Homo sapiens: one gene and its partner. The protein of the gene in region 1 purifies or fractionates together with the protein of each later gene. This does not show direct contact. Each region holds a gene or a part of one and is shown on either strand. Other genes may lie near its edges.

The links.
Region 2: the proteins of KIF3C (region 1) and ZC3H3 purify together in Homo sapiens (affinity purification with mass spectrometry; one large-scale study listed by BioGRID and IntAct). This does not show direct contact.

Annotation. Positions count from the first base shown.
Region 1 is NC_000002.12:25,954,864-25,958,510, reverse strand, and holds part of KIF3C (kinesin-like protein KIF3C), read left to right. Parts: intron 1-2,066; coding exon 2,067-2,168; intron 2,169-2,847; coding exon 2,848-2,970; intron 2,971-3,647.
Region 2 is NC_000008.11:143,531,399-143,535,045, reverse strand, and holds part of ZC3H3 (zinc finger CCCH domain-containing protein 3), read left to right. Parts: intron 1-3,647. UniProt on the Homo sapiens protein: Required for the export of polyadenylated mRNAs from the nucleus. Enhances ACVR1B-induced SMAD-dependent transcription. Binds to single-stranded DNA but not to double-stranded DNA in vitro. Involved in RNA cleavage.

The DNA of each region.
Region 1 (3,647 bases):
CTCCCTAGTTCAACCGATTCTCCTGCCTCAGCCTCCTGAGTATCTAGGACTACAGGTGCACGCCACCACACCCAGCTAATTTTTGTCTTTTTAGTAGAGCTGGGGTTTCTCCATTTTGGCCAGGCTGGTATCGAACTCCTGACCTCAGATGATCCGCCCACCTCAACTTCCCAAAGTGCTGGGATTACGGGCATGAGCCACCGTCCCCAGCCCAGGGTTGTGTTTTTAGTGGATCTGCCTGGGTGTCATGTGGCAGAGGGGTGGAAGGGGACACTGAGGCAGTGGGGAGACCACAGCAGTGGTCCAGGAGAGTTGTGGGGGCTGCAATGAAGCCAGCAGGTAGCAGTGAGAATGAAAAATGGGGGGTGGTGGGAGCCGCACTGAGGAGCAGATTTGATGGCCTTGACTCACTGGCCAGATGCAACGGATGAGAGGCAGGGCAGGGATGAGGCGAGGCAGGTGAGTCGCTGAGGATGCAGTGTAAGGGATTCTTCCCTCTCATGGTCCTGCAAATGCTGACCTGGAGTGTGAAGGAGGAGCCTAGGATGGGTTTAGGTCTGTGGCAAGGCAATGCGGTAAGAGGGGAGATCATTAACCAGGAGCGCAGGCGGCTGCAGTGTGGCAGCATGGACAGCCTCCAGGGCTCAAGGCCTCTTCCTCCTGCCTTGGCCTCTGAGGCTGTGTGGGGCTGGAATGAAGCTCGTGCCTCTCTGGCGGGCCCAACTTGCTCAGCGTCTTTGGGTGACAAAGCCTCACACAGCCCATTCCTTGACCTCCCAAAAGCCACTGTTAACCCCTGTCTGGCTGTGTTCCCAATGATGTGGCTCTTACAGGTGGTCTCCTGCTCCCCAAGTCTGACAGCACCCCCTGCTTTGAGATCCCTCAGGTAGGTCAGCTGTTTCCACTGGGAAAAATTCCAGTGGAGAAGCAGCCAGCTTTTTCCACTGGTTCAAGGTGATTTCAACCTTCCAGGAGGCCCGTGATGAAGCCAGAGGACAACTGGGTACCCTGGGACAGCACCTTCTTCTTATTTTATTTTCATTTTCTAAAATTTCAAATCGGGCACCCCCCCAAACCAGAATAGGTTTTGAAAGGCTGCCGACAGCACCCTCTTGAAAATACATTTTATGTAGTCACAGTTTACACAAATCTGACATTATTTCAGCTTCAGATTCCAAAGCACTGACTAGGGGCTTTCACAGAGTGAGACTGGGGGTACGAGGTTCAAATCTCTCCTCTTTGCTACTCAATAGCTGCATGGCCTTAGGCTGGTCATTCTCAATGTCTTCATTTATTAAATGCGGAGGAGAATAGTCCCTCTTAGGGGGGGATGGAAACCATGGTGTTAAAGGCTTAGCTCAGCATCTAATAGATACTTAGCGCTCCACAAATGTTTGCCAGCCATCCTGGAACATAGGCGGTGTTCCAATATTGTAGATGACAGACCTGAAGGGATTAATTTGCCCAAAGCCTCGAGGTAAGTGGGTAGAACCAAGTCTTCCCGGCCCTCTCCAAAGCTCCTGCTGTGCTGGGCCCGTGCTGTTCCTTCTTGCTGTGCAGTCTGCTCCCTTTGGCTTTTCTTCTGCTTTCCACATCAGCTGAAGATTTAGACCCTTTCCTGCTGCCTGTGTTGAGAGCTGTCTTCCTGAGTTGGAAGCCAGTTAGCTAAAGGCTGGGCTACCTGGTGACTGTATCTTATCTTTCCCAATCCTCAACACCAGCTGGGTCCTGGTTGCCAGGATTAGGTTGCCACCCCCATCCTCCTCCTAGCCCTGGTGGACCAACCTTTCCTGTGTACCCAAAGCAAACAGACCAGTTGCCCTAGATTCCCCGAGGGGCACCCTCTGTGCCTCCCTAGTGTTCCTGCTGACAATAAGAGCCTTGTGCTGGGACCTGAGACACTAGAGGGGAAAACTCCATTCTCCCTGAAAGCCACAAGGCCCCATCTGGGACACATCTGGTGTCCACTCCCAGAAGGACCACAGAGCAGGGAAGCAAAATCTCTCCAGCTAGCAATGTTGTGGACCCTTTGCAAAGCCCACCTCCCAACCCCTCTGTGTCCCCAGGCCATGGAGAGCAAGCTCCTCATCGGGGGCAGGAACATCATGGATCACACCAACGAACAGCAGAAGATGTTGGAACTGAAGAGGCAGGAGATTGCCGAGCAGGTAGGGCCTCCAGGTGCCAGGTCCCCTTGGAGAGTGTGGCCTGCAGCTCATGTCTGGGAGGTGCAGGGCCGTAAACCATGGTGGACTCTGGATCTCTGGAATTACAGTGCTGAGAATCTCAGACATGCCACCCTGGGTCCCACAGGTCTACTAGCCCAGGGTCTTCCCTTTGGCAGGGGCACTGCTAGCTGGTGGGCGAGAGGACGTGATAGCTCTCCATAACATCAGCCTCCACAAGCCACCTGGTACTAATTCCTGGGCCTTCCACAAGGTGGTGTGAGTTCTTTGCCAACTGTATGACTGTTTCCCTAAATCATCAAGAGCCACAGTTTGTTGGTCTTACCAATCAACCATTATACTACTTGGGGAGAGGGTGAGGCAGCTTGGAAGGCAGTGTGATGTGCCTCCATCTGTGTGACTAACGCCTCTGGAGTAGGCCAGCTCTTAGGGGCTGGGGTCTCCATCCACATGGGGCAGAGCCTGGCAAAGGCATGGCCCTGGGAACTGAGAGGAGGGTTCCCAGGGGCTCTGCAGGATTGGGTGGGAGCAGTGGATGTGGGCCATGGGCCATGGTGAAGCCAGGTCCCGAGACAGGCAGAGTGAGCCAGTCCCCTGAGCTTTCCTGGCCCTCCCGAGTATGCACTGCTCCTTTGAGCCACACTGCCCGTCCTTGGCCTAGAAACGTCGTGAGCGGGAGATGCAGCAGGAGATGATGCTCCGGGACGAGGAGACTATGGAGCTCCGGGGCACCTACACATCCCTGCAGCAGGAGGTGGAGGTCAAAACCAAGAAACTCAAGAAGGTGAGACGCTGCAGCAGGACCGGTTAAGGTGTGCTGGAGGCCCAGCAGTCTCTGCCCAAGGGATGTGTGCTTCAGGGACTCCTCCCCATTTGGCTGGAACTGCTGAACCCCTGAGTGACATGGCTTGGCCTCGGGGGTGAGCAACAGGGGGAGGCAGGAGGCGGGGGCTGGGGGTGGAGTAGAGCCTTTTCTCCTGGGCCAGGGTGGGCTATGACAGGCTGCAAACTCTGTCACTTGCAGTATCCAGCGTTACCATCTTCATGGTCCTGGGTGATTACCCCGTTCAGTGTCACCAGTGAGTCACAGTTGGGATAGCTGGGCCTGGAGCAGGGCCAGGGGAATACAGAGAGGCTGAGGAGGAGACTGGAACCCCGGGAAGCTCAGGTGGGGAGTGTAAGGCCCTCAAGGACATGTCAAGGGATGAGAATAGCCGCTCACCAGAACCCTGCAAAGCCCGTGGCAAGGGAAAGACATGTACATGTGAGGGGGGTCTAGGGCAGGAAGCAGCAAAGCTCTAGCTTGGATTCTGGGAAAAACCTGGAGGCCCTTCGGGGTGGGTGATGTGGCTGCCCAGGGGCAGGCCTGGCAGAGGCACTGCCACTGTGGCAGTTACCACGGACCCAGCCCTCAGTGGCTTTGGAGAGGAGCAGGATGGCCATGCTACCTCCACACCCCAC
Region 2 (3,647 bases), on another chromosome or scaffold:
AGCCAAGCGTACCGTCATCTAGGGAGGCTTCAGACGGCTCTGGAAGGAGCTGGGCCTGGGCAGACCCAAGAGCCGTGTGGGGGCTGCCGCGGGAGGGCAGGGCGTTGGGTCCCAGGTGGAGGGCTGAATGGGGCGATGCAGCCGGGTGTTGCAGCACAGTGGGGTGGGAGGAAGTGGGGCTGGGGGCGCTGGTCGGCTGTACCCCGTTAGCCGACACCTGCTGCACGCCAGGACATGTGGATTTCATCCTGGTGACAGGGAGCAAGCAGAGACCCATGCGGTCCCTGGTGGCCACAGTGAGGTGGCCGGATGGTGGTTAGGTCGTGGGCTTATCTGGGAGTGGATGGTAGGGGTGGCTTGGACAGTTGGCGGTATCCCCTGGTCACTTGGGGAGGAGGGGTTGGGGAGGTGTCCAGCTCTGGGAGGCCAGCAGGGTCTGCTGAGCCCTAGGAGGCCAAGGCTTGCAGATGGCGTGGTGGTTGGGGTGAGAGGCTCCCCACTGGGTGCAGGTTCAGCCCTGCTCACCTGGCCTGCTCCCTCTTCAGGCCTCTAGTAGAGTGGGGCATAGGCAGGGGATGGGGGAGGTTGCTTCCTGCTGGTGGGGCCTTGCTCGGCGCCCCCCGGACTCCTGCCAGGAAGAGTGGGTTTGGGAGGCCACCAGCTTCACCGGCTGACCATTTCGGAGTGCACAGCTGAGGGGCTGCTGCGGTCCTGCCTCACTAGAGGGAAGGGCGTAATTGATCTCGTCGTTTTTTTTTTTTTTTTTAATGTTTTTAGAAACAGGGCCCTGCTTCCCTCCCAGGCCAGAGTACAGTGGTGCAGTCACAGCTCATTGCAGCCTCAACCTCCTGGGCTCAAGTGACCCTGCTGAATAGCTGGGACTACAGGTGCATGTCACTGTGCCTGGCTAATTTTTAATTTTTTTGTAGGGACAGGGTCTTGCTTTGTTGCCTAGGCTGGTCTTGAACTTCTGGGCTCAAGTGATCCTCCTGCCTTAGTCTCTTAAAGTGCTGGGATTACAGGTGTGAGCCACTGTGCCCAGCCAAACTCATAGTTAAAGACCAACGTGAGGCTGGGCGTGGTGGCTCATGCCTGTAATCCCAGCACACTGGGAGGCCGAGGCGGGTGGATCACCTGAGGTCAGGAGTTCAAGACCAGCCTTGGCAACATGGCAAAACCCCGTCTCTACTAAAAATACAAAAATTAGCTGGGTGTGGTGGCGAGCGTCTGTAATCCCATCTACTCGGGAGGCTGAGGCAGGAGAATCACTTGAACCCAGGAGGCAGAGGTTAGATCGTGCCATTGTACTCCAGCCTGGGCGACAGAGTGACATTTTGTCTCAAAAAAAAAAAAAAAAAAAGACCAGCGTGGCGGCTGCATGGAGTGAGAGGAGAGGGTCCTGTCTGAGGAAGGGGTGGGGAAGGCGTCCCACTCACTTGCCCACCACTGGCCCAACTGGCAAGCGTGGTTGAGTCACTGTGCCTGGCAGCCTGCCGGCTCCTGGGGATACTGCAGTGAAGGTGAAGAGATGATGAGGCTGGAGCCGCCTTCCAGTGGTGGAGACAGGCAGCCACTGGAGTGCTTGTACATCAGCCAGGAAGGTGCTCCTGGGTGGAAAATGCCTTCTGAGGAACAGGCAGGGGGAGAGCACAGGGCCAGCTGCAGAGAGGTGGTTGGCGAGTGGGAGGGCTTCTCTGAGGAGGTGACCTGAGCAGAGAGGAGCGAATAGGGCTCAGCTCTGAGGCCGAGGTGGAGGTGGGAACGAGCTTACTGTGTTCTGGAGCACAAGGAGGCTGTGGGGCCAGTTCACCATCTGGGAGTGTGGCTTGGAGGGGATGCAGCCAACGGGGCAGAGGGACCAGGTCCTGGGAAAGGGTCTTGTAGGCCACAGGAGGGAACGGGGGGTTGGTTCTGGTTACGTTGGGAAGCCAGGGAGGGACAGGGGAGGACCCTGGGAGGGGCGTGTCCAGGGCCCCGGGGTGTCTGGCAGGCCCGAGTGGGCAGAGTCGGGAGGACCTGTGCGTGAGGCCACTGACGCCAGGCCAAGGAGCGGAGTCCGCAGGCTCTCAAGCAGGCAGGGAGCCCGTGGAGATGTGCGCGGAGGTGAGAGGCCGAGCCTGCGTCCTGGCCTGGTCACTCAGGCGGCTGACCCCAGAGACAGCCACCGTGAGACTCCAAGCTGGCCGCAGGGGAGGTGGGCGTGGCCAGGGCGTCTGCTGAGGAGATGGGAGGCTGGGGCCCAGGAAGCTGTTGAGTGGCTCCCCCAGGTGCCCTCCTGCAAGGCCCACCGTCTCCATGCCTGCCTGCCTGCCTAGGAACTGAGGCCTGCCTGTCCTCTGCCTTGGCCAGTGGGCTTCTGGGCAGGGCCCAGCTTTGTTTCGTTGAACGCTGCAGTGCTCTGGTGAGCCAGTGAGCCCTTCCCAGGCCCTCCTTCAGCCCTCCCGGGTGGCCAAGGCCTCCATCGGCTGGGGTGTTCGTTCCTGGATGCTGGGGTCGTGTGGGCTGTGGATGGGGCAGCCAGGTGGGACTGCTCCTTCATTTGGCTGTTGGGAGTTTTCTTTCCCCATTTTCTGCCCAGCAAAAGCTTAGTTCCAGCTCCACCTCTCCTCTTCAAGGAGACGGCAGTGTCCCAGTGTCCAGCTGGGGACGACTGCCCTGTGGACTTATGCACCAGGGACAGGGGCTTCTGAAAGCTGCCAGGCAGCCCTGCTGCCGCCTCCCTCCCCCGCCGCACTTCAGCCTTGCCGTGCGGCCCAGTGGCCAGCAGAGGGCATGCTTGCCCCTCCTATCGCCTCCGTCCACCCTTTTTTGGTAATCGCGTAATTTCCTTTTTATGTGAAAGAAAGCAGATACCAAGTAATTTGCAGCAATAACCTGCTAATGCTGGGCCAGTATCGAAACTCCCCTGTTCATTTCAAGTGGCAGATAAAACGCTAATACATAATTATCCTTGCAAATTGGATTATTTTAAATAACCAAAAGGCTACGGCCAGGAGAAAGCGATCCCATCTCCCCTGAGTTACTATTGCAGCGTAATTGCCGCGTTCAATCAATTTCCCTGGCATTAGAAATTCCGTCACAATCAACATTAAGCTTTATTCATTGTGATGGCTAAGAGCCGGGCCATTTCTCCTCTTTTTCTTAACTGGCAAAATTAATCAGGGAAAAGATTTTAAACATTTACCCGTGCGAAAGAGGTCAGCCCTGCCACTATATTGCTCAGCAGATAAGGGGGCTAATAAAAAGAAAATTGAATTACTAATGATCACCAAGAACAGAGTATATAAAACCTGGCCATCGCCAGTTCAGGAAAAGGGAGAATCAATTTTCTTGGGACAAGGTGCGTTCATTTTTTATTTTGGCGCATATTATCAGCAATTTAATTTGAGAGGCATAAACAGGAGGAAACAGTTAGGGAATAATGAGCCTGGAGGTGTAAAGTGCCACAGGATATATGCTGTACACAATTTATTTGGCACAACAGATAATCGCTTTAATTGAATTCAAAAGTGCATTGTTCAGCAGCACTGTGGCCGCTCACGCCTGGGGACTGAGACTGTTTGGAAGGTTTCAGCCTGACTCTTCGGTGCCTCTCCTCCCCTCCCTGCCTCTCCCGGCCCTCCGAAGTCCTCTGGGCCTGGAGTCAG